3 separate regions of the Homo sapiens genome follow, and regions 1 and 2 are each linked to region 3. Evidence: fine-mapped expression QTL. A gene starts in region 3. Each other region holds a variant in brackets. All regions are shown on one strand. Distances are between the middles of the regions. Region 1 overlaps THAP4 (THAP domain containing 4). Region 2 overlaps THAP4 (THAP domain containing 4). Region 3 holds the start of BOK (BCL2 family apoptosis regulator BOK).

Region 1 (8,177 bases), 52 kb before region 3:
CCCCACCCTCCATCCTTTCTGCCTGGTCTCGAATTTCATCTAATTGGAATCATAGAATATATACGTTTTTGTCTGGCTTCTTTCTTTTCGCGCAGTGTTTTCAAGGGACACCTGATTGATTTTCATTTCTAGTCTCACTGCATTGTGATCAGACAGTAGACTTCTTTCTGCTTTCTGGAACTTACAGGCTTTCTTTGACCATTTAGAAGGCCAGTTTGCATGACTGTTCCAGAGGAACTTGAAGAAGGCATTCCTTAGTTTTGTTTTTGTTTTTGTTTTTGTTTTTGTTTTGAGATGGAGTTTCGCTCTTGTCACCCAGGCTGGAGTGCAATGGTGCAATCTCGGCTCACCGCAACCTCTGCCTCCCAGTTTCAAGCGATTCTCCTGCCTCAGCCTCCCGAGTAGCTGAGATTACAGGCATGCACCACCACACCCGGCTAATTTTTTGTGTGTTTTTAGTAGAGACGGGGTTTCATCATGTTGGTCAGGCTGGTCTCGAACTCCTGACCTCAGGTGATCCACCCACTTCAGCCTCCCAAAGTGCTGGGATTACAGTCGTGAGCCACTGCGCCCGGCGGTATTCCCTAGTTTTAAGCTACAGAGTTCAATATGTATCAGTCAGAACTACCTTATTAATTATATTATTTGGGAATTTTGTTTTATTTGTATTCATTCAGACTTAGAGGTGAATTGCAATTTCATTTAGTTTCTTTCTCTCGACATCTTCGTGTGTCATCAGTAATTTCTGCTTTATAGATGTTGCTGTGCTTGGTGCATGAGTATCCCTCACGGTTACGTCTTCATTGTGCATTCTGCCCTTCATTCGGGAGAGCCATTCTTTGTCTAGTTCCATGCATTTTACGTGATGCTAAGATTGGGAAGCCTGCTTCCTTATTGCTTATTGCCCAGCTTTCTGGACTCTCTCTCTGAATTGCTTTATTTTAGGTGCATCTCTCATTTACAGCAAAAGAGGTGAGGGTCTTGCTTTGTGGTCCAATCTGAAAAGCCTTTTTTTTTTTTTTTCTCAAGGCAGGGTGTCTCTCCAGTTGCCCAGACTGGAGTGCAGTGGCGCGATCTTGGCTCACTGCAGCCTCAACCTCCTGGGCGCAAGTGATTCTCCCCACCTACCCTCCCAAGTAGCGGGGGCTACAGACACGCACCACCATGCCTGGCTAATTTTTTTGTATTTCTGGTAGAGATGGGGTTTCACTATGTTGCCCAGGCTGGTCTCGAATTTCTGGACTCAAGCAATCCACCCACCTCGGTCTCTCAAAGTTATGGGATTATAGGTATGAGCCATCATGCCCGGCCTTGAAAAGCTTTTTCATATGTAAGTTCAAGCATTTTTAGTCTTGGTTCTGTCATCTTATTTTATATTATGCTTGTTGTGTTTTACTTTTTTTTGTTTTGTTTTTGTTTTGTTTCTGAGACAGGGTCTCGCTCTGTCACCCAGGTTGGAGTGTAGTGATGTGCTCTCGGCTCATTGCGATCTCTGCCTCCCAGGCCCAAGCGATCCTCCCACCTCAGCCTCCTGAGTAGCTGGGACGACAGGCACGTGCCACCACGCCCAGCCAATTTTTTGTAGTTCTGGTAGAGACAGTGTTTTGCTATGTTGCCTGGGCTGGTCTCAAACTCCTGAGCTCAGGCAATCCACCCTCCTCGGCCTCCCAAAGGGCTGGGATTACAGATATGAGCCACTGCAACCGGCCCAGTTTTTAAAATGAAATCTTCCACTGCTACTTCATTTGTAAGCCTCTGTGGTGTCAGCTCTCAGGGACAAGACCAGTGGGGAGTTCTGCCCCTTCAAGGGTCCTATGAGTTGAGTGTCATGCCTGTACGACCAGGCATCTACCACCTATAACCAGTTTTTTTTTGTTGTTTCTATAACCGCTTTTTTTTTTTTTTTGGCTTAGTACATTCAGTGTTTACGGAGGTTTCTTTCCGCATCATTTCCCTATTGTCTCCTGATGACATCCAGCTGCTGGTAATGTCCTCAGGGAGAAGACATAGAAACAAAGCTCCTTGGGTGCCAAGGGTTGAAAACTCCATTCCTGCACTGTCGAAAAGGTCTAGAGAGTGAGTCTCTTATGTAGTTTAATATTTTCTAATAGCTACATTAAAAAGGTAAAAAGAAACAAGTGAAATCGATTTTAATAATATATTTTATTTAACCCGATATTATCTAAAAATTATTTCAACAGGCAACCACCCATACTATAAGATTATTGAATTATTTGAAGACTTTTTGGACTGAGTTTTCGGAATCTAGTTTGTAGCTCGCACTCACTGCACGTGTCAGTGAGCCAGCTCACGCGCCTGCAATCTGGAAGGATCGCTGTGGCCAGCCGTAGCATCCTTGCCACTCACCTTCCCTCCTCATGCGCCTTCTACGTGTGACTCTAGCGTCTTCTGCCACAGAACGCAGCTGTGGAGAAACACTGACCCACGTTCTGTCTCTGTAGATGTGTGTGTTCTGCACCTTTCACAGAAATGGAATTGCAGAATATGTGCTCTTTTGAGCCTGATTGCTTTCATATGGTGTGTTGTCAAGGGCCATTTGAATTGCAGCTTATATTAGTGCTTCATTTTTATGGCCAAATAACATTCCATTGTCTGGATATACTGCAGTTTGTTTACTCATTGGTTGACGGACATCTGTGTTGTTTCCACTTTGGGGCTGTTGGGAATGGTGCTGCTGTAAACATTCATGGGCAGCGTCCTGTGGGGACAGGTGTGTCATTTCTGCTGGGAGTGCATGTCTCCAGGAGTGGCAGTCCTGGGCCACTGCTCCACACTTAACCTCTCAGGCACATGCCAGATGGTCTTCACTAGGCTGTGCCAGTTCACGTCCCCATCAGCAGTGTGCCAGGCGTTCCCGTCCTTCTAACTTTGTTTCCATTTCTCTATCTTTTGTCTTTTTTTTTAACTCATTTCTGTCCTCTGTGTTCCGCTGTGTTTCCCGGTGTTTGTTTCTCCCTGTGCTGCTTCCAATCTCCACTTCATTTGGGTGGTGGCTTGATTTTTTTTCTTTTACTTTCTCGACTTCTGCCAGGTCATGTTTCACCTTCTCCTCTTTCCTTGCCGTTTCTCTCCTGAGTTCTTACATGTTTAGTTAGTGGTCTTTCTTCATGGAGCAGCTTCATTCAACTACTCGGGAGGCTGAGGCGGGAGAATCACTTGAGCCCCAGTGGTCTAGGCCGCAGTGAACCGTATTCATGCCACTGCACTCCAGCCTGGGTGACTGAGCAAGACCCTTTCTCTTAGTTTCACCTTTGCCCCATCAACATTTTGCAGTTTGTATGTTTTGCTGCTCTTGTTCACACTTGGTGTCTTGTCACCTTTTGTCCATCTCTGAACTCAGGCAGTGTCTTAGAGTCCATTAGTCCATTGCTGGAGAAGCAGAAGGTCTTCAGGAGCAGCATGCCTTTCTTTCTTAATTTTTTTTTTTTTTTTTTTGGAGACAGAGTCTCACCCTGTCACCCAGGCTGGAGTGCAGTGGCACAATCTCGGCTCACTGCAACCTGTGCCTCCGGGGTTCATGCCATTCTCCTGCCTCAGCCTCCCTAGTAGCTGGTACTACAGGCACCCGCCACCACGCCCGGCTAGTTTTTTATATTTTTAGTAGAGATGGGATTTCACCATGTTGGCCAGGCTGGTCTCGAACTCCTGACCTCAGATGATCCACCCGCCTTGGCCTCCCAAAGTGCTGGGATTATAGGCGTGAGCCACTGCGTCCAGCCGGCAGCACCCCTTTCTTTCGGAGTGGCGCATTACTTCTCTATGGCGGGTGGTGGGTAACCCTGCATGGAGGCCAGCCTGGGCCTTCAGCACCTGGGCGAACACCTGGGGTGTCCTGGGCAGACGCGTGGGGTGCCCTGGGCCTGCTGTTTGCAGGAGCTCCCTGTGGCAGAGCGGGGGCCAGAAGAGCCTCCAGGCTTCCCAAGTCCAGGGCTCCCCACTCCGCCCCAGGCCTCTGAGCCAGGCCAGACCCTGAGGCTTCTCAGGGGCCACCCCCCCAGCTCCCAGAGGCCCCTCCTGTCCTCCAGCGAGGCACTGACCCACCACTTCTCACAGCATCCGTATGTGTGTTTTGGTGGCTGTGGGTTGTATCTGTGACCTATTTTCCCTCAAAATCAAGTTCAGGGAAAAGGTTTTTTCGTTATTTTTGTTTTTTTTAATTCTTGG[G/T]AGGGAAGGTGATAATATTGTTACTTACCTGAGAGTCCCCCTCGGAGACCCCCAGAAGCTGGTTTTAAGGGAAGAAAGAGTAAGATCCCTTTCTGTGTCTCTGTCTCTGGCCCCGTCTCTGGCCCCATCCCCGTGTCTCTCTGGCCCTGTCTCTCTGTCTCTGTGTCTCTGTCCCCGTCCCGTCTCTCGCTGTCCCTGGCTCTGTCCGTCTTTCTTCCCCATTTAAGGAGCGCCTCCTCTCCGGTCCCCTCTGAGGAGCGCTGGATGGAGGACAGGGCCTCCCGGAGAGGACTCCACGGTGGGTGGTGGGAGGGAAAGACCAGGGGGAGGCAGAGGCTGCCGGTGAGAGGCGTCTGCCAAGTAGATGAGGGGCCGGGAGAAGACCCCGTGGCTGGGGAAGCAGGAGTGGGGAGGGCGGGGCCTCCGGGCCGAGGGGCGCGGTCGCTGTGGTCTGTGGAGGGGCTGGCGAGGCTCCCGCCTCTGCTCTTGCTGGAGCTCTTGAGTGAGCCCTGTGACGCCTGCTAGGTGAGGTGGCAGCCAGTGAGCGCGCCCCACCGCCCAGCGCCGCCCAGCCTCCGCCCTGACTCCTCTGCCGCTCCCCAAACAGGGCGCGGTGGCGTGACCCTGGCGCTGGGGGGCGAGCGCGGCCCTCCCGGTCCCGCAGGCGCAAGAGAGGGCGGAGATGCGGCGCCTGAGGCGGGGCTGCGCTTCCGGGGCGGGGCCGGCGGAGGCTGGAGGGGGCCGCCCGGGAGCAGAGGCAGGACTTGCGGCGCGTGCCCCTCACCCTAGCCCGGGGCTGTCCTGCCTCGTGGGGAGTGTGAAGGCCATGCCCGGCGCCGCGGCCCTGGTGCCCCTGTTCCACTGGGACCCTGGGGGGCGCCGCCAGGCCCCTTGGCCTCTTCCTCGGGGCCCTCGGGACCCAGGGGCCGGTGGTGGCCGTGCCGGGGACTCGGGCGTGAGGGGTGGAGATCGCGGCCCCGGTGCAGCAGCTCAGAACCTGGACTCTGGATCGCTGCTCCCCAGCGCCCGGGGTGCCGCTTCCCACAGGGTTCAGCTCCCATGCAGGCTGCGCTCACCAGTGGAAGTGGGTCCACCCGGTCCCAGGAGAGCCAGAGCCCCGTGGCAGTCGCTGTGGGGTGTGCTCCGCACAGGCCAGAGAGCCGGCCCAAAAACCTGAGGTTTGCAAAGCCTCTTTCTTTCTTTTTTTTTTTTTGAGAAAACGTCTCTGTCGCCCAGGCTGGAGAGCAGTGACACGACCTCGGCTCACTGCAACCTCCGCCTCCCGGGTTCAAGCAATTCTTGTACCTCAGCCTCCCGAGTAACTGGGATTACAGGCGTGTGCCACCACGCCCGGCTAATTTTTGTATTTTTAATAGAGACAGCGTTTCACCACGTTGGCCACGCTGGTCTCAAACTCCTGACCTGAGGTGATCTGCCCGTCTCGGCATCCCAAAGTGCTGGGATTACAGGTTCAGTGAGCCATTGCGCCCGGCCCAAAGCCTCTTTCTTTTCAGTGCTGAGCTGGATAAAGTCTACCAAACTGAAAGGTCTCCAAGGCTATAGCTGGCTGTCTGAGAAATTATGGTGTTTGTTTAGCCCATCTTAGGACTTGGGCTATCCCAGGTGACTGAGTTTTGCTGTTTCACACCTCCCAAGGTTCTTCTCATTCTTCCTTTTCTCCATTAATGGTAACTTGTCTTCTCAATTGCTCAGGCCAGAAACCTCCGTTACCATCTTTTCTTACGTGTTTCACATCCAAACCATCAGCACATCCGGGTGGCTCTGCCTTCAAGATAGATCCAGAAGCTAGGTCCTTTCCACTGCCTCCACCACGGCCACCTGGCCCAGGCCACCCTCCTCTGCCACAAGGGTTTTTGCCATTGCCCTCCCTGGCTTCCTGTGGTTGCAGTCAGAGACCTCGTCCCTCCCACTCAGCCTTCTCGAGGGCTTCTGTCTGCTCAGAGTCAAGGTCACGGCCCTTCCGAGGGGTGAGGATCTCCTTCCCCTGGCCACACTGGCCTCCTGTTCCTCTCCAGCAAGACCAGGCCTACGTACCCAGGACCTCCGTCTCTGGCACTTCCACCTGGTCTGCTCTTCTCCAGGGTAGCTGCAGGGACCCTGATCCCCTGCCTGGTCTGTGCACACTTCTCAGGGAGGGTGTCCTTGTCCCTTTTGGGTAGGTTTTCACAGTGCCCCAACAGCCCTGTCTCCCTTTCTGCCTCATCTCCTAATGTACATTCAGTTCTGCATCATTCACTCATTTCTTGTGTATTGTCTGCCCTCGCTAGGATGTATGCTCCGTAGGGATGTATGACTGTTCCGTCAGCTTCTCCCTGGAAGAGTGTCCAGCACGTTGAATGATGAAAGAATTGATCAGCTATGATAGATCACAAGCCTCGTTCCAGAGGCCACACATTGGATTCAGAAGCTTCTATTCCTTATCTCCGTGAAAGATTGCAACGAAAATCTTGATTTAAAAATTCTCTTATTGTCTAATTAGGAAAGTTTTATTGAAGTCCAAATATTCCCATCCTCACCTTCCCACTTTTCACCGGGAGTCTGAGGAGGAAATACTGATATAAAAAATTTTTAAATCATCATTTAAGAAAAACAAAAAAGGAAATACTGAAAGACCACAGGCCAGTCTGGAAAAGGAGCGGACTCTCCCACTCTCCTGCTTCAGGTCACCTATGTTTGCCCTGTGCAGCCAGCAGGCAGAGTGCTCATTACCTGCTCTCCACCCTCGGTTCTCACTCTGGGCCCCAGGGCTCGGCCACTGGGCCAGGCCACATGTGCGGCCCTCCTTGGTTCCAAGCTGTTCTTGGACGTGGTCTCCTCCACCCCCAGAGCCTTTGCTTTCCTTTCCCCCGATCTTCTTTTCCCAGACTTCCTGGAATTTATAATCCAAAGGTTGTGTAATTTCAGAAGCTGCGATGGTTCCAAGAACTCCTGTCCCCGTCAGTCCGTCTTCTGCTTGCGCGGGCCTGGAGGAGACACTGGGGGTCAGTCCTGATCCCGTCCCCATCAGTCTGTCTTCTGCTTTTGCGGGCCTGGAGGAGACGCCGGGGGTCAGTCCTGATCCTGTCCCCGTCAGCTGTCTTCTGCTTGCGCGGGCCTGGAGGAGACACTGGGGGTCAGTCCAATCCTGTCCCCATCAGTCCGTCTTCTGCTTGCGCGGGCCTGGAGGAGACACTGGGCATCAGTCCGATCCTGTCCCCGTCAGTCCGTCTTCTGCTTGCGCGGGCCTGGAGGAGACACTGGGGGTCAGTCCTGATCCTGTCCCCGTCAGTCCGTCTTCTGCTTGCGCGGGCCTGGAGGAGACGCCGGGGGTCAGTCCTGATGTGCAGGCCGGTCTCTGTGCTTGGGCATCTTTGGGCTCCGTAGATGAGGCTTGTGCGGCCACAGAGCTGCTTCTGTCCCTGCTGCTGCTCCTGGGTGTCAGTGTCCGTTCTGTCAATTGAAGCACTGAGACTTGAGGGTTAAGCAGGCCTGGGAAGCAGGTCTTTGGGATTGCCTCTGGGGATCAGTCCTTCTCTTCCAGCGCCCCTGATGGGTAGCATGCAGTGGGGCTTTCCTGTGGTCCCCGCACAGGTCTCCCTTAGAAAATGAGTAAGAGCAGGGCCCGTGCATCCAGCCAGGGTGAGGGTCATGTGAGTGAATCCTGAAAAGCCGCTCGGGAGCACCCAGTCCTTGCTGAGCGAGGCAGGAAGCAGGGGTCCCTTTGAGTTCGCCCAGCAGAACAGCCAACCCAGCGGCCCCTCCCTGCTGTCCTGTCACTGCACCCCCACCTCTGAGTTCCAGGCCTGTGGTGTCATCCTTCACACTTAGTGGGATGAGAGACTGAACCCCACAGGAGACCTTCTAAAGGGGTCTCCTGGCCACTACACAGGCTGCTGTGAAGCCCCAGCCCCTCCTCAGGGAAGCGGGGTCTTACTTCCCTTTTAAACCCCGCCTGCCCCTGGGCCCTCACACTCTGGCTGCTCCGAGACCCT
Region 2 (8,177 bases), 70 kb before region 3:
CCTGGGACCCGACAAGGGCCTGGCCCAGAGCCCTCCCAGCTCATCACTTACCGCGACACCGCAGAAGCCTTCCCAGAGCCCCTCTGCCCCTCCTGCCGACGTCACCCCAAAGCCAGCCACGGAAGCCGTGCAGAGCGAGCACAGCGACGCCAGCCCCATGTCCATCAACGAGGTCATCCTGTCGGCGTCAGGGGCCTGCAAGCTCATCGACTCACTGCACTCCTACTGCTTCTCCTCCCGGCAGAACAAGAGCCAGGTGTGCTGCCTGCGGGAGCAGGTGGAGAAGAAGAACGGCGAGCTGAAGAGCCTGCGGCAGAGGGTCAGCCGCTCCGACAGCCAGGTGCGGAAGCTACAGGAGAAGCTGGATGAGCTGAGGAGAGTGAGCGTCCCCTATCCAAGTAGCCTGCTGTCGCCCAGCCGCGGTCAGTACCGGAGCCTCGCGTACCCATGTTCCCTTCCCGTTAGGAGGGGTTTCTCTGCAAGGTGGCCAGCGTCCCCTGAGCATTTCTGGGAGGTGTCACAAGCTCCCTGCGCTCTCAGGAGGAAGCTCTGGTCGTAACCATACCTTGTGGATGAGGGAATCCAGGTTAGAAAGCAGGCCTCACTGCACCTGGTCCCACAAGAGGCATCTGTGTGTGTAGGGATGTAGGCCGTGAAGGAGGCAGGCAGCACGCGTCAGCCAGGAGTGCCTGAACGCCTCCGTGGAGAGTGCACAGGGAAAGATAGCTTCTGTTTCATACCTTATGCAACAGAAATTCCAGATGAGTTAGGAACTAGATGGAAAATAAGAGAGTAAACTCTCAGAAAAAGCAAATATCAGAAACTGTTAAAATCATGAGGAGGTTCTTTCTGTTCACGTTTTAAGGAATATCCTTGAAGTTAAATCATCATGAACATTAATAATTATTTTAACATCTATTCAATTAAAACATCTGTTGAGGCTGGACTCGGTGGCTCACACCTGTAATCCCAGTACTTTGGGAGGCTAAGGTGGGCAGATCACTTGAGGTCAGGAGTTCGAGACCACCCTGGCCAATATGGTGAAACATACAAAAACATACTACTAAAACATACAAAAACTAGCTGCACATGGTGGTGCACGCTTGTAATCCCAGTTATTGGGGAGGCTGGGGCAGGTGGATTGCTTGAACCTGGGAGGCAGAGGTTGCTGTGAGCCAGGATTGCACCACTTCACTCTGGCCTGGGTGACAGAATAAGACTCTGTCTCCAAAAAAAAAAGACACACATCTATTGAAACACATTCTCAGCCGGGCATGGTGGCACACTCCTGTAATGCCAGCTACTCAGGAGGCTGAGGCAGGAGAATAGCTTGAACCTGGGAGGCGGAGGTTGCAGTGAGCTGAGATGGCACCACTGCACTACTCTTTGTCAGCCTGCGTGACAAAGAGCACAACTCTGTCTCAAAAGAGAAAAAAAAAAAAAAAGAAATACAATACATTCTCTGTTGCAAAAATTAAAACTGCAGAAATAGACTAAGAAGTGGTAAAAAAATTATTGTTTGTCATCCACCTCCCAAGTTCTATTCCTTGTTGTTATTAAAAATTTGGTGTGTAAGCCAGGCACAGTAGCTCTTGCCTGTAATCTCAGCACTTCGGGAGGCCGAAGAGGGAAGGTTACTTGAGTCCAGAAGTTCAAACCAGCCTGGGCAACATAGGGAGACCCCATCTCTATAAATAATTTAAAAATTAGCCGAGTACCATGGTGCACGCCTGTGGTCCCAACTACTTGGGAGACTGAGGCAGAAGGATAGCTTGAGCCTGGGAGGTCGAGGCTGTAGTGAGCTGTGATTGCACCACTGTACTCCAGCCTAGGTGACAGTGAGACCCTGTCTCAAAAAACAAAATTTCCTGTGTAATCTTTGTATGTATATTAGCTCTATTTCTGTTTTTTCCCATATTTTACTGTTAAGTATTTCTTAAAATTGGTTTCTAGATGTTTACATATGGCGGATGGTTTCCTTTGCCTGTCGTGTACATAGGAAAACCATATTCCTACCACATTGTTGATTTCATCTGGATCAATGCTTGTCAATAAGTATATGATAGTGGGACAAGATTTTCAGGACCTCCTGGATCCTCAGGGTAACAGCTATTAGCACAACCGAAAACAAAGCCCATCCGACATGTTCTCCAGATGTGTCCTGGGGAGGAACGGTGCCACTGAGTACTGCTGACCTAGATTTTCAGATCAAATCTAGATTTTCGGATTCTTGGGTTGAAATTGTATACTGTTTTTCTCTTGGAATTTTATTTTATTTTTTGAGATGGCATCTCACTCTGTTGCCGAGGTTGGAGTGCAGTGGTGAGATCTCAGCTAACTGCAACCTCTGCCTCCCGGGTTCAAGCAGTTCTCCAACCTCTGCCTCCTGGGTTCAAGCAATTCTCCTACCTCAGCCTCCCAAGGAGCTAGGATTACAGGCCCCTATCACCACACCTGGCTAATTCTTATATTTTTAGTACAGATGATGTTTCACCATGTTGGCTACAGTTGTGAGCCACCACACCAGGCCTTCTCTCGGAATTTTTTTTTTTTTTTTTTGAGACGGAGTTTTGCTCTTGTTGCCCAGGCTGGAGTGCAATGGTGCAATCTTGGCTCACCGCAACCTCCACCTCCCGGGTTCAAGCAATTCTCTTGCCTCAGCCTCCCGAGTAGCTGGGATCACAGGCATGCGCCACCACACCCAGCTAATTTTGTATTTTTAGTAGAGACAGTGGTTTCTCCATGTTGGTCAGGCTGGTCTCGAACTCCCGACCTCAGGTGATCCACCCGCCTCGGCCTCCCAGCTTCTCTTGGAATTTTAAAGCTGTTTGTAGTTATCAGAGCTAATGCTGCTTTAGACAGCTTCTCTCTGTTCCTCTTGGTTAAACTTCCTGAAGTTTGTCTCCATTACAGGTTTTTGCAAACAGCCAGCCCTTCGTGTCTCTGAGTTGTTGTTTATGCTGGTTAATCCTTACATCTTTTTGCTTTGTTGGGTTTTTTCTTGTAGTTCTGGTTCCTGGCGTGTTCCTTAACCCTGCAATGGAGGCTGTGGCTCTGCTGTTCCTTGGGCTGCGTGCCATGGATCTGCCTCTCTCTGCTTTTGTTGCTGTTCATTTCTGAGTCGTTTGTAATTCCAGCCTCGATGCCCCCTTTAACCCTGTGGTTATTTAAAAGGGTGTTGACAGATTTTTCAGTGCACACAGATTGGGCGAGGGGAGCAAATTTTTTTGTAGTTACTTTAAAATTTGATTGCATTAAGGTCTAATGGTAAGGACTGAAGGAGTTCTGCTTTTTGGAATCCTTTGAGACTTCACTGTGGCTAACACAGTCCCTTTTTGTGACTGTTGCAGTGTAGTGCTAGAAGAATGTATCCTCACCACTCCTTGGTTATATTGTTCCCGCCTGAAGCTGGGCACTTGCTTACTTGTGTTAGTCAGCGGACCAGAGCGTTCCCTAGCTTCTTGTCAGGCTCTCGGTCTGCTGATTTCCAGGAAAGGTGAGGTAGACCTCCCCTGTGGTTCTGGAGGTGCCCGTTTCTGCTTGTATGTCCAAGTTTTGCTTTCTGCCTCAAGACCATGCTGTTTGATGCATAAGTTTTCCTGTTACCAACACAAGAAACTCCTTTTTGTCCCGTTTAACGTCTTATTTCTTCATTTCCTTATTTTCAACCTTTTCATCTTATTTTATAGTTATATTTTTAACTCAATCCAAAAGTCTTTTTGTAGAGTAATTTAGTCATTTACAATTGTGATTACTGATAAGTGGGAATTCGGGCCTACCTTTTTAATTTGTTAGGCTTCCTCACCGTTTTCTTATTATTCTTCTAGTGGATATGTTTCAATTTTTTCTTTTCTTTTTTTTTTTTTAAGAGACAGGGCTTTGCTCTGTCACCCAGGCTGGAGTGTGGTGGTCCTATCACAGCTCACTGCAGCCTTGACCTCCTGGGCTCAAGC[C/G]ATCCTCCCACCTCAGCCTCTCGAGTAGCTGGGACTACAGGCACATACCACCACATCCGGCTAATTTTTAAAATTTTTTGTAGCAATAGGGTCTTACTATGTTGCCTGGGCTGGTCTTGAACCCTTGGCTTCAAGGGATCTTCCCGTCTCAGCCTCCCAAAGCTCTGGGTTTATAATTGTGAGCCACTGTGCCCAGCCCATCTTTCAGTTTTAAAAACAAACACGTGAGCCCCTCTTTGTGTAACTGTTGAGAGCTGATCGGTCCTGTGTGCCACCTTCCCTAGGTGGAGGCTGTATGTCATCTTAGTTCCGGTGCTTCTTATTCCCCCATCAAGCAACCATGATTATTAGATTGAAGTATACATTTTACTGGTTACTTTATTTACCATTGTTTGCTGTATCCAAGTTTCCCCTCCTTTTTGGCAGTATTTAATGACTTTTTTTTTTTTTTTTTTTTTTTGAGACAATCTCAGACTGGAGTGCAGTGGCATGATCTCGTCTTACTGCGGCCACGACCCCCTGGGCTCCAGCGATCCTCTCACCTGAGCCTCCTGAGTAGCTGGGACTACAGGCATGTGCCATCATGCCCGGCTAATTTTTTGTGTGTTTTTTTGTTTTTTTGTTTTTTTTGTTTTTTGTTTTTTTTTTTGTAGAGATGGGGTTTTGCCATGTTGGCCAGGTAAGCCACCGCACCCAGCCATGACTTTAAAAAAAAAAAATCCTATTCCAGTACAGTTTTGAGGGGGGCGCTGGTGACTGTTGTGGCAGTCCCAGGGTAGATGGCGATGGCTCAGACTTTAGGGAGGAAGTGGCGGTGGTAGCAATGCTGGAGTACTGGCTGGGTTCAGGGGGTTGAGAGGCAAAAGATCAGCAGGCCAGCTACAGGGATTAGGCTTGAGCACCTGGAGGATGCTAAGTGGGAGAGGCTTTTGGGGAGGAGCAGGAGATGGGGGTGAGGAACGGAGTTTGAGATGCTCTTGGGTGCTGAGGCCAGAGTTTGAACAGGCAGTCTGAGGCCAGCAGCTGGCCTCTGGGATTTGGGCATGTGAGTGTGGGGGTGGAGGGCAGAGGTGTTTGAAGCCTTGGGGGGTCGAGTGTGGTTCTAGGCTGGGCTTCAGTGCCCGGCCCAGGAGCAGGCCTCGCTGAGAGAGGGGCAGCCGAGGCGGGTCCAGGGGAAGGCTGAGGGGTTGTTCAGGAAAGAAGGGTGACTTGCTGTGCTGGGTGCTACTCTGACCAGAATGGAGAGAAGGGGGCTGGATGTGCCCCAGGATAGTGGAGAGAAGGGGGTTGGATGTGCTCCCAGGGTCGCTGGTTACTGGAATCTCACTGGAGAGGCTGGTGGAGCTGGGCGGAGAGGGGGCCAGTGATGAGGGGTCAGGGCCAGGTTTGGCCGTGAAGTGGAGTGAGGCAAGTAGACAGGAGCCAGAGGGAGTGTGGCTCCAAAGAGAGTGTGTCAGTGGGGAGGGCTGTGAAGGGCCAGGCTCTGGAGAGCAAGGGACAGGTGCAGGCACCACCCTGCATGCCTTGTGCCCCTCCAAAGGTGAGGCCAGGCCACGGCTGGGCATGCGGTGTGGGCACAGGGGTGGCAGGAGCGAGGGTGTGGTGGGGAGAGGACATCCTCTCCCTGGGGTTGCAGTCTGTCACGCCGGCGTCGCAGGCCCTGGGGTCTGCACTCTGTGGTTCTTGCTGTCCGTGTGGATTTGTTCTTCAGTGACAGACTCTTTGGGTCATTCTTTAGGGATTTATGTGGAAAGCGCCGCACACTTGTCTATTCAGCTCGCTAGCCAGTGTCTGCTTTTGGGCAGGTTCCCCAAACTGAAGGATGCGGGCCAGTGGGCTTCAGAGGTGGGTTGAAGCCACGCTCCAGAGGCAGTGCCCGGTGGCGTTCTGTGGACGTAGTGTTCTTCTCCGCCAGCAGCGATTCCTTGAGGGTACATTGTTAGCACGTCTATGAACCACGTGTTCGCGGTCTTGCTTGCCCACTGAGTTATAAACGTTCTTGATACAGTAAGGATACCAACGCCTGTTAAATATTATTCACCTGTTTCCTAAGTTCAGCAATTTAACACTTGCTTCAAAATCTGTTTTCTTTTTATTCCTTTATGGATTCATTATCTACATATAATTCTTGAAATCTGGATTGTCAAAATCCAAGTACAAAACAAGTGAACCTTAATGTAAACTATGGACCCTATTTGTAGCAATGAATCAGTATTGGTTCGTAACTTGAGACACACATACCCACACTAATGCAAGATGTTAATCATAGGGGAACAGGGCAGGGGGTGAGAGGGTGAAGGAATTCTCTGTACTACCTGCTGGATTTTTCTGTCCTAAAAACAATCTGTTAATAAATAATAAATGGAAGCTGAAGAGTTTGGAGAAGTGCAGACAAAACAGGAATGTCAGAAGAGTGATAAATGGTGAAACTAGGGACATGTGTGTGGATTTATTACACTAATCTGTTTAATTTGTAATGTTCAAGATTTTTCACAATATAAAGTTGTTCAAAAATCCAGATTAGCTGGGCTCAGTGACTCATGCCTGTAATCCCAACACTTTGGGAGGCCGAGGCAGGCAGATCACTTAAGGTCAAGAGTTTGAGACCAGCCTGGCCAACAGGGTGAAGCCCTGTCTCTACTAAAAATACAAAAATTAGCTGGGCATGGTGACACGTGCCTGTAATCCCAGCTTCTCAGGAGGCTGAGGCAGGAGGATCACTTGAACCCGGGAGGTGGAGGTTGCAGTGAGTCGAGATCACGCCACTGCACTCCATCCTGGGTGACAGAGCGAGACTCCGTCTAAAAAAAAAAAACAAAAACTGTTAAGAAATAGCAGAAATAATAACAGTGTTTTTTTTCCTCCTTATGATGTGAGCTGTAGTACTTTGTTGTTGTTTTTTGGTTTTTGTTTTTTTGTTTTGTTTTGTTTTTGTTTTTGTTTTGAGACGTAGTTTCGCTCTTGTTGCCCAGGCTAGAGTGCAATGGCGATATCTAGGCTCACTGCAACCTCCGACTCCCTGGTTAAAGCAATTCTCCTGCCTCAGCCTCCCAAGTAGCTGGGATTACAGGCATGTGCCACCATGTCCAGCTAATTTTTGTATTTTTAGTAGAGATGGGATTTCACCATGTTGGCCAGGCTGGTCTCGATCTCCTGACCTCATGATCTGCCCGCCTCAGCCTCCCAAAGTGCTGGGATTACAGGCGTGAGCCACCAAGCTGTAGTTTTTTTATATGTCCTTTATCAAGTTGACAGAATTCCCATTTATTCCTGTTGCTGAGAGCTGTTATCATGAATGGGATGTTGGAATGTGTCAGATGATTTTTTTGCACCTATTAATGTGATCCTGTGATTTACGGTCAGATGATTTGCCTGTTGATGTGACGGGTTACGTTAATCAATTTTAGAGCACAGAGCCAGCCTTGCATACCTGGAATAGATCTCACTGGGTCATGGCAAATAATTCTTTTTATACATTTTTTTTATTCAATCGCAAATGTTTTCTTAGAGATTTTTGCATCTGTGTTCATGAGAGATATTTGTCTGTAGTTTTCTTTTTTCTTTTTTTTTTTTTTTTTTTTTTTTTTTGAGACGGAGTCTTGCTCTGTTGCCCAGGCTGGAGTGCAGTGGCACGATCTCAGCTCACTGCAAAAACCACCTCCCGGGTTCAAGCAATTCTCCTGCCTCAGCCTCCCTAGTAGCTGGGACCACAGGCGCCCGCCATGACGCCCGGCTAATTTTTTGTATTTTTTAGTAGAGACGGGATTTCACTGTGTTAGCCATGGATGGTCTCGATCTCCTGACCTCGTGATCTGCCTGCCTCACCCTCCCAAAATGCTGGGATTACAGGCGTGATCCACACACCTGGACTCTTTTTCCTTTTTCCTTTTTTTTTTTTTTTTTTGAGACAGTGTCTCACTCTGTCACCCAGGCTGGAGTGCATAGTACAGAGGTGTGACCTCGGCTCACTGCTGCCTCAACCTCCTCGGCTCAGGTGACCCACCTGCCACAGCCTTTCGAGTAGCTGGGACTATGGACACGTGCCGTCACACTGGCTAGTTTTTTAATATTTTTGTACAGACAGGGTCCCAGCCTGTTGCCCAGGCTGGTCTCGAACTCCTGGGTCCAAGTGATTCTCCCAGCTTGGCCTCTGAAAGTGTTGGGACTACAGGTGTGAGCCACCACACCCGGCCTGTAGTTTTCTTGTAGTGTGCGTGTTTTGGT
Region 3 (8,177 bases):
AGTCACACAGCTGACTGGCCACGGACCCACACCAGCTCCCAGACAAGGGTGTGCAAGGCCTCCCTGCTGTCAGGGGTCTTCCAAAAAACTGCCCCAGGGGAACAGCATGCCCCTCCTCCAAGCTTCAGGGAATCCTGCGCACCCCGGGGTTCACTGGCCCAGAGCTGTGCCCAGCACCTGGACAGCACTTGGAAAACAGCTGAGGAATGTGCCAATCAGGGAGGTGCCACATCAGGGCCGGCGCACCACTCACCCCAACAGCAGCACCCAGCGCCTGCCACACCCAGGGGCAGCTCATAGCACGGGGTGCCAGGACAGGACCCAAGGTCACAGAGGTCAAAGGCAGGGGGCTGAGGTCTGCAGGGCCAGACCTGATGACATGGGGCAAGCGGACAGAAGCCACACTGGGCAAATCCAGGCCAAGGCAGCTGGACAAGTGGACAGCGGGCACCGAGTAGGGGAGACAAGCCCTAAGCCTCCCGTGGGCCTAGAAGCATGTGGACAGCCGGGAGCAGCAGGAGCAGGGAGGCAGGGCCAGGAGATGCCTCTCCAGGGCAGAGATGGGAGCGCACAGGAGGGTCACAGGTGAGGCAGGCACAGCCAGGTGAGATGCGCTGCTGTTCTCCGGATGCCCTCCGGGAGCCAGTCTGCTTGGACCCCCATGCTCTCCCCTCTCCTGGACGCTGGAGCCCTGAGGCTCGCTTCTGACCATCAGAATCCAGCAGAGTTACCCGTGACTTCTGAGGGTATATCCTAACAGCCTGGCAGCATCTACTCGGGAGCTGTCTGGGAAACCTGCTCCTTGCCACTCCTCCTTGGGACACAGCACCATGCTGTGAGAAGCCCAAGCCCCGCTCGGGGGCCCCTGCAGGAAACCAGGCAGCCCTAGGACGTGCCACCCCACAGGACTGCAGGTCACGCGGCCCCACGGATGCTGGACCACAACTACAACCAATCAAGAAGCCTGTGCCAGCTGCTCAGCATGCCCACCAGCCTGCAGAACCACAAGAGACCCTGAATGCTGTGGTTTGAGCCCACGCTGGTGGCTGGGCAGCTCCTGACACCTGCAGCAGTGAGATGGCACCGGTGGGCACTGGGCAGCGCCAGGATGGGTGGGGGCCAGCTCGTGGGGTCCCTGTGAGCCTGAGCCACAGACCCTGGATCCCTCCCTGAGGTCCCATGGGACGGGCAGGCTGGGCATACCTGCAGAGAAGATGTGGCCAGCCACGGCCAGGAACGCATCGGTCACCACAGGCTCAGACTGCAGGGAGATGTGCAGCTGACGCGCCACGTTGCGGTAGACGCTGGGCCGGATCATCTCCAGCTCATCGCCTGTGTGGTCACAAGAGCAGGTGAGAGGCAGCCCACGTCCCAGCTTCCTGGGACACGACTGGCTTGGGGCACACCCTGCACCTGACCCCCACCTGACCATGCTTGAATTCCAGCCTGTTCCTCACTTGTCTGATTCCCACCTCCACTTGACCCCATCTGACCTCCCTTGGGCCATCCCCCAACCTTGGCCCCTAGGGACCAGAAGACCAAGGAAGTACTGAAGGCGCCCCCAGTCCCGCCCCTCTGACGAGCCAGCCCCTAAGCCTAGCCGGCCAAGCCGGTGGGGCGGGAATCCTGCGAGAGCGTGGGCCGTGCCTGCTGGTGACTCACAGCCGACAGGCAGCCGAGCTGCCCAGAGCAGGAGGGACCAGGCAGACGGCCAGACCCCGACGTGGGGAGGGGCTGGGCAGAGAAAGCACTGGGGTGAGAGCAGGGGAGCCCGACGTGGGGAGGGGCTGGGCAGAGAAAGCATTGGGGTGAGAGCAGGGGACAGCCCGAGAGCCCGGCTCAGGCCCTAGCATGGCTCAGGGACCACTCAGATGCAGAGGCTGAGCCGCTGTCCTGGGCCACCCGCACTGCCACGCTCCCACCTGGGCTGGCTGGGCCGCTGTCCTGGGCCACCCGCACTGCCACGCTCCCACCTGGGCTGGCTGGGCCCCTGTCCTGGGCCACCCGCACTGCCACGCTCCCACCTGGGCTGGCTGGGCCGCTGTCCTGGGCCACCCGCACTGCCACGCTCCCACCTGGGCTGGCTGGGCCCCTGTCCTGGGCCACCCGCACTGCCACGCTCCCACCTGGGCTGGCTGGGCCGCTGTCCTGGGCCACCCGCACTGCCACGCTCCCACCTGGGCTGGCTGGGCCCCTGTCCTGGGCCACCCGCACTGCCACGCTCCCACCTGGGCTGGCTGGGCCGCTGTCCTGGGCCACCCTCACTGCCACGCTCCCACCTGGGCTCTTGCTGCCAAGGGGATGTGCTTGGAGGTGGCACTGCATCAGCCCTGCCCCTGGCAGCCGAGGATGGCCCCTACAGGCCCACCGCCCCAGTGCTGCCTGTGGCACCCTTGGCAGCAGCAGCGCACAGGCACGGGGCAGATGGTGCCGAGAATGCCACAGGGCCCTGGGATTGGGAGTCCGCAGCCCGGCCAGTTCTCCAGCCAAAGCAAACAGGGTAATGCTGCTGACCGGACCATCCCAGCTGATAAAGGCTGCTCTGTATCTCATTAATTAAGATCTGGAAGCAGAGCAGAGCCCATGAGAGGCTGGCTGGGGGCGGGGGACGACATGGAAATTCCCAGGACTGACCCGGCAGCTCCCAAACACAGATCTCCGGGGCTGCTGCAGGCTGGCCCCAGACTGAAGGTGGGGACACAACCCGGGCTTCTTCCTGTCTGCACTGCCCAAGGGCAGGGAGACAGCGCTGGCCTCAAGGGACTGACCCTGAGCAGCCGTGAGGGCAGATGCAGGTCTGAGCTGTGTCCCTCTGGGGTCCCCCTAGACATCTGGGACTTCTTCCCAGCCATTCCAGGGGTCTGGCATCATCTTTTCAGAAGGCCACTAAAAGGATCCCCTAGGGTCATTCTCAGAGCCCGACTAGAGGCAGCAGCAGGCGGCGGATCTCATGGAGCCCCACCAACCCCCTAGCTCCCACCCAGAGACCTCTCCCTCCTTCTGAACTTCTCAGATGGGACTCCACCTCCTCCTGGAGGCTCTGTGCTGGTCCCCATGGATTCTGTCTGCACCCCACACACACTCCTGGGCAGGCCAGGTCTACACAGCTTTGCTCTCTGGGCCCAGCCCACCACGTAAGGGCAGGGGCCACCTAGAGCCCATGCCAGCGCCAGCCTGAGAGGAGGCAGCGTGTCCCCTCACGGGGTCGTGCCCTCCGACTCCAACCCCCTGCCTGGAGAGCCACCGATTCAGTTTCACCTATGCTGTCACCTCCCCTTCCCGGGCTCAGCCACAGGCGCCCCATGTGCCCTCTTCGGGCATCACATAAACATTCCCAGGTGACGGCCACAGCCCAGCTGTGGTGAGGGGACTGGACAGTCACAGTGGGGCTGGTCCCTCCCTCTTGGGTCCAGACCTTGGAGACGGTGGGGGCAGCCAGTGGACCGTGTGTGACCCCAGAACCGAGCACCCCCAGATGTCCTCACAGCACCAACGAATACTGAGGTTTTGGCTACCCAGCCCGGTGGGCGCAGTTTCCAATGGGGGGGCCTCGGAGGCCTCGGAATCCAGAGGGCAGCGGGCGGGATCTCGGCCAGTAACAGCAAGAATCTGTTTTCCAAAATAAACATCGGGACACGTGCTCCTACAAAGGGTTTCTGTGCCCAGCTGAGAACAAGGGTCACTGTGGAAGCTTAGCCACCCACTAATAGATTATTCTTTCTGGAGCTTTCTATTGTTTATGGCCAGCATGACTGAAATCTGGGCTGAGCAGGCAGCTGATGGGGGGGCCTGTGGCGTGGGAGGCCTGAGAGGGCAGATCCGGGAGCACCCGCCTGGGTGGCCCTGTCCCGAGCGCCTGGCCGTCCCAGGCAGGGGGTGGGCGCCCCTGGGCCGGACCCCCATCTCGGCCTCGGAGGGAGGCTGCGGCCCAGCAGGGGAGGAGGCGCAGCTGGGGATCCCACCAGGGCGCACTCACCCAGGCGCAGCAGCACCGCGCACACCTCAGCCAGGCGTCCCGGGACCGGCGCGGCACGCTCGGGCGCGCTCCAGGAGAGGCCGGCGCGCAGCAGCCGCGCGTGCACGTACTCCCGGCCCAGCGCCTTGGCCTGGGCCACCAGCTCCTTGTCTGTGGGCGAGCGGTCAAAGGCGTCCATGATCTCGGCGGCGAAGACCGAGGAGCGCCGCAGCACCTCCATGGCGGCGACGCGGGTGGGGGGCGCCGCACCTGCGGGCACAAGCGCTCAGCCGGGTGGAGGGAGGCGGCGCGGGGAACGGGGCGCGCGGGGCGCCGGGCTGGGCGTGGCCCTCGGGAAGGGCCGTAGCCGGCGCCGGGTCCGCTCTCGTTTTTTGTGCCCCAAATCTTTAAAAACCCAGCGCCACCTTCTTTCAGAGCCCGAATTCAGCTACAGACATTCCCCGAGGCTGCCAGGGACCGGTGGGGCCGCGGGGAGACGGCGGTTTGCTCCGGGGCCGCCGGGCCCGCCCTCGAAGACGAGTGCGTGGGCGGCGGGGGCGGAGGGCACAGCCCAGCGCGTCCCCCACGGCGACTGCCAGGACCCGGCCCTCCCCGCCCCGGCCCGGGGCCGCCCACCTCCGCCGCTGGCGTCCTGCGCGCGTGTCCCCGGCCTCGCCGTTCCCGTGGCACCCCGGGCACCCCGGCACGGACGCCACGCCCGCCGCGCTCACCTCTCCCGCCGCATGGCGCGGGCGCCGGGGTGGAGTTCTGGCTTCAGGATCTGCTCGCCGCCGACGACGACCTCGACCCTTCCATTCAGACCCGCGAGGACGCGCGCCCCGCCCCGGCGCCCGCCCCGTCCACGCCCGAGCCGGGAGCGCCAGGTCCACGGGGCTTCCCGCGCTCTTGGGGGGCTCCTGCCGCGGCGTCGGGGGCCTGGGCAGCGAGGTGGGCAGCGCGCGACTCCCAGCTGGCGAGAGGCTGGGCTTGGGGCTTGGCCTTCTAAGGGAAAGGCAACCCTGGGGGCGGAGTCGGGGAGACGCTTTCCGAGCTTCCCCGCTTAAGGAGGACCGAGCGAGTTCCCTGGATGCGCCCGGAGAAGGCGACCAGGCCGGAGCGGCCCCCGCAAGGCAGAGCAGTGGGGACCTAGAGCCAGCCCCAGCCGCCTGGGTGTTCCCCGGGGTCCATTTGAAAATTGGGTTGTCTTCTTCGTTCGTAGAGGTTCTTTCCAGAGTCTGGAGACGTGTTCTTGGTCCGGACGCATGCCCTTTGTATTGTAGATGGATTATTGGATTCGCATTTATTGAAGTTATTGCAAATATCTTCCTCTATTTTGTGGTTTACTTTTGCTTTGGATGAACAGGAGTTACTCTTAGTGATGTCCAATTTATCAATATTTTCTTTATGGTTAGTACCTTTTTATTGGGATATCCTCCTGTATTTCCTTTTAGAAGCTTGTTTTAGGGCTCATATTTAGATCTATGATTGATTACATATTAATTATTGTGAATGGTGTGGTACGGGGCTAGAGCTCATTTTTTTTCGTGTAGATATCCAATTGACCTGGCATCATTTATTGAAAAGCATCATTTTTTTTCCACCGAATTGGAGGAGTCCCCAACATCTCAACATAAATCAGCTGAAGAGTGTGTGTGTGTGTGTGTGTGTGTCTCGGAACTCTATCCCACTGGTTTATTTCTTTATCCTTGAATCAACCTCACACAGTTTGAACAATAGGATTAACCAACTTGGCCTAATTCACGTGTGTACAACACTATAAAATACTTATTCTTCCCATGTGCACATAGGATGTTTATCGAAATAGACCATATCATGGACCTTATACAAGTCTCAGCAAATCTCAACGGATTGAAATCTTACAGTGTGTCCTCTCTGAATTAAAAGTCAATAACAGAAAAATTACTGGAAAATCTGCAAATGCTTGGAAATTACATGTCACACTTCTAAATAATCAATGGGTCAATAATCACAGTGGAAGATTAAAATATGTTGACAAGAACAGTGAAAAATAAGACATATCAAATGCTGTACAGTGCAACTAAAACACTGCTTAGAGGAAATTTGATAGCTTTAGAAGAAGGATTGAAAATTAGGCCAGGTGAAATGACTCAGACCTGTAATCCCAGCATTTTGGGAGGCCTAGGTGGGCAGATCACCTGAGCTCAGGAGTTTGAGACCAGCCGGGTCAAAATGGTGAAAACCCCGTCTCTACTAGAGATACAAAAAATGAGTTGGGTGTGGTGGCAGGTGTCTGTAATCCCAGCTACTAAGGAGGCTGAGGCAGGAGAATTGCTTGAACCTGGGAGGCGAAGGTTGCAGTGAGCAGAGATCATCCCACCTGCACTCCAGCCTGGACAACAGAGTGTGATTCCATCTCAAAAAAAAAAAAAAAAAAGGAAAAAGAAAAATAAAATTACTGCTCTAAGCTTCCACTCAAGAAGCTAGAAAAGAACAATAAAACTAAAGATGAAAGGAAATAATAAAAATAAGAGCAGAAATTAATGGAATAAAGCAAAAAATAGAGAAAATCAACAAAGCCAAAAATTGGTTCTTTGAAGAGATTAATAGAACTGATAAATCCCCAGAAAGATTGAGTAAGAAAAAAGATAACACAAATTTCACTATCAAGAATGAAAAAGAGGACATCACTGTAGATACTACAAGCATTAAAGGGATAAAAAGATAGTATGGAGGACTTTTTGACAGTGCATTTGAAATTTTAGATGATACACAACTTACCAAAACTGACACTAAAAGAAATAGAAAATCTGGATAGTCCTACACCAATTAAATGCATTGAATCTGTAATTTAAAATCTTCCCACAAAGAAAATTCTAGGTTCAGATGGTTTCATTGAGAAATTCTTCTCAACAGTTAAAAAAATACCACCAGTCTCATACAAACCTGCACAGAGACTAAAAATGAGGGAGTATTTCCCAACTCATTTTATGAGGTCAATGTAATTTTAATACCGAAACCTGTCAGGAACATTACCAGAAGCTAGGAAAGCTATGGAACTTCTATCTGCTATGACTTTCCTGTCTGGGAAGTAGGAAGAATAATAATACCTACCTCCTAGGATTGTTGAGAGGACTGAATTCTTTTTTTTTTTTTTTTTTTTTGAGACGGAGTCTCGCTCTGTTGCCAGGCTGGAGTGCAATGGCGTAAACTCGGCTCACTGCAACCCCGCCTCCTGGGCTCCAGCGATTCTCCTGCCTCAGCCTCCCGAGTAGCTGGGACTACAGGCACCTGACACCACGCCCGGCTAATTGTTTGTATTTTTGGTAGAGAGGGGGTTTCACCATGTTGGCCAGGATGGTCTCGATCTCTTGACCTCGTGATCTACCTGCCTTGGCATCACAAAGTTCTGGGATTATAGGCGTAAGCCACAGCGCCCAGCCTGGGAGGACTGAATTCTTAATCCATGTCATGTAGTAAGTGCTCAGTCATTGTTAGCTGCTTTTTCAGAAAAGCTGTAGTACAGTAAAATCTGAGGGTGCATTTTAATGAACTCTTTAATGTAGAGTCTAGAGCTCCTTGGACAGTGTGCGCCTCAGATTTCTGAAGAGCAGTCAGGTTTGGGATTCCCTGTAGATAGCATTACAGAAATGCAGAGAGGGAAAAGATCTCGCCCAAGGAGTCACTGCAAGACTGGGCATGGCCAGACTGTAAACCTTGGGGTCTAACTCCATGGTTCCTGAAGTACCTCTGTCAGGGGAAGAGCCTGTACTTGCAGGCAGGAGACCAGGAAGCTCACACCTGCAACCTTCCCGCTGTGTAGCCTCAGGCAACTTCCTGCCCCATTCACAGGCTCAGTTTCCTCCTGTGCAGAATGAACTCATACTTCCTGCTTCCTGTCTCCTGTTGGAGCCGTCTCCTGGGCTCTGACATGGGGGTAGTGGGCCACTGGGCATAATTGATAGACATGTTCTGCATCCCAGGAGCTGCAGAAACCAGGTAAAGCTGTGTCTCTGGATGTTCAATATGGAACATTGCTAGCAGTAAGGAACTGAAAATGACCTAAGTGTGCCAGGCGTGGTGGCTCATGCCTGTAATCCCAGCACTTTGGGAGGCTGAGGCATGTGGATCACCTGAGGTTAGGAGTTCGAGACCAGCTTGACCAACAAGGTGAGACTCCGTTTCTACTAAAAATACAAAAAATTAGCCAGGCGTGGTGGCGCATGTCTGTAATCCCAGCTAC

The links. PIP is the estimated chance that this variant, and not a neighbour inherited with it, causes the effect.
Region 1: its variant is fine-mapped to the expression of BOK in lung (TOPMed, PIP 0.98).
Region 2: its variant is fine-mapped to the expression of BOK in thyroid (GTEx, PIP 0.91).

What each region holds. Positions count from the first base shown.
Region 1 is chr2:241,607,004-241,615,180 of GRCh38, reverse strand. The region is part of intron 2 of THAP4 (THAP domain containing 4); the gene reads left to right. Among named protein-coding and RNA genes, the nearest start is that of THAP4, 26 kb to the left of the region's middle. RefSeq lists enhancers at 3,902-4,422, 4,639-5,139, 5,140-5,641, 6,548-6,717 and a silencer at 4,620-5,189. The variant G/T (reference allele first, on the strand shown) is at 4,186.
Region 2 is chr2:241,625,162-241,633,338 of GRCh38, reverse strand. THAP4 (THAP domain containing 4) reads left to right here. Exons shown (of 6, transcript NM_015963.6): 2 at 1-422. Among named protein-coding and RNA genes, the nearest start is that of THAP4, 7.9 kb to the left of the region's middle. The variant C/G (reference allele first, on the strand shown) is at 3,954.
Region 3 is chr2:241,555,503-241,563,679 of GRCh38, reverse strand. It overlaps BOK (BCL2 family apoptosis regulator BOK), which reads right to left and starts at 4,935. Exons shown (of 5, transcript NM_032515.5): 1 at 4,687-4,935; 2 at 3,977-4,225; 3 at 1,204-1,332. The coding sequence starts at 4,196. It overlaps BOK-AS1 (BOK antisense RNA 1), which reads left to right and starts at 4,537. Exons shown (of 2, transcript NR_033346.1): 1 at 4,537-4,903. RefSeq lists silencers at 3,913-4,042, 4,093-4,162, 4,193-4,272.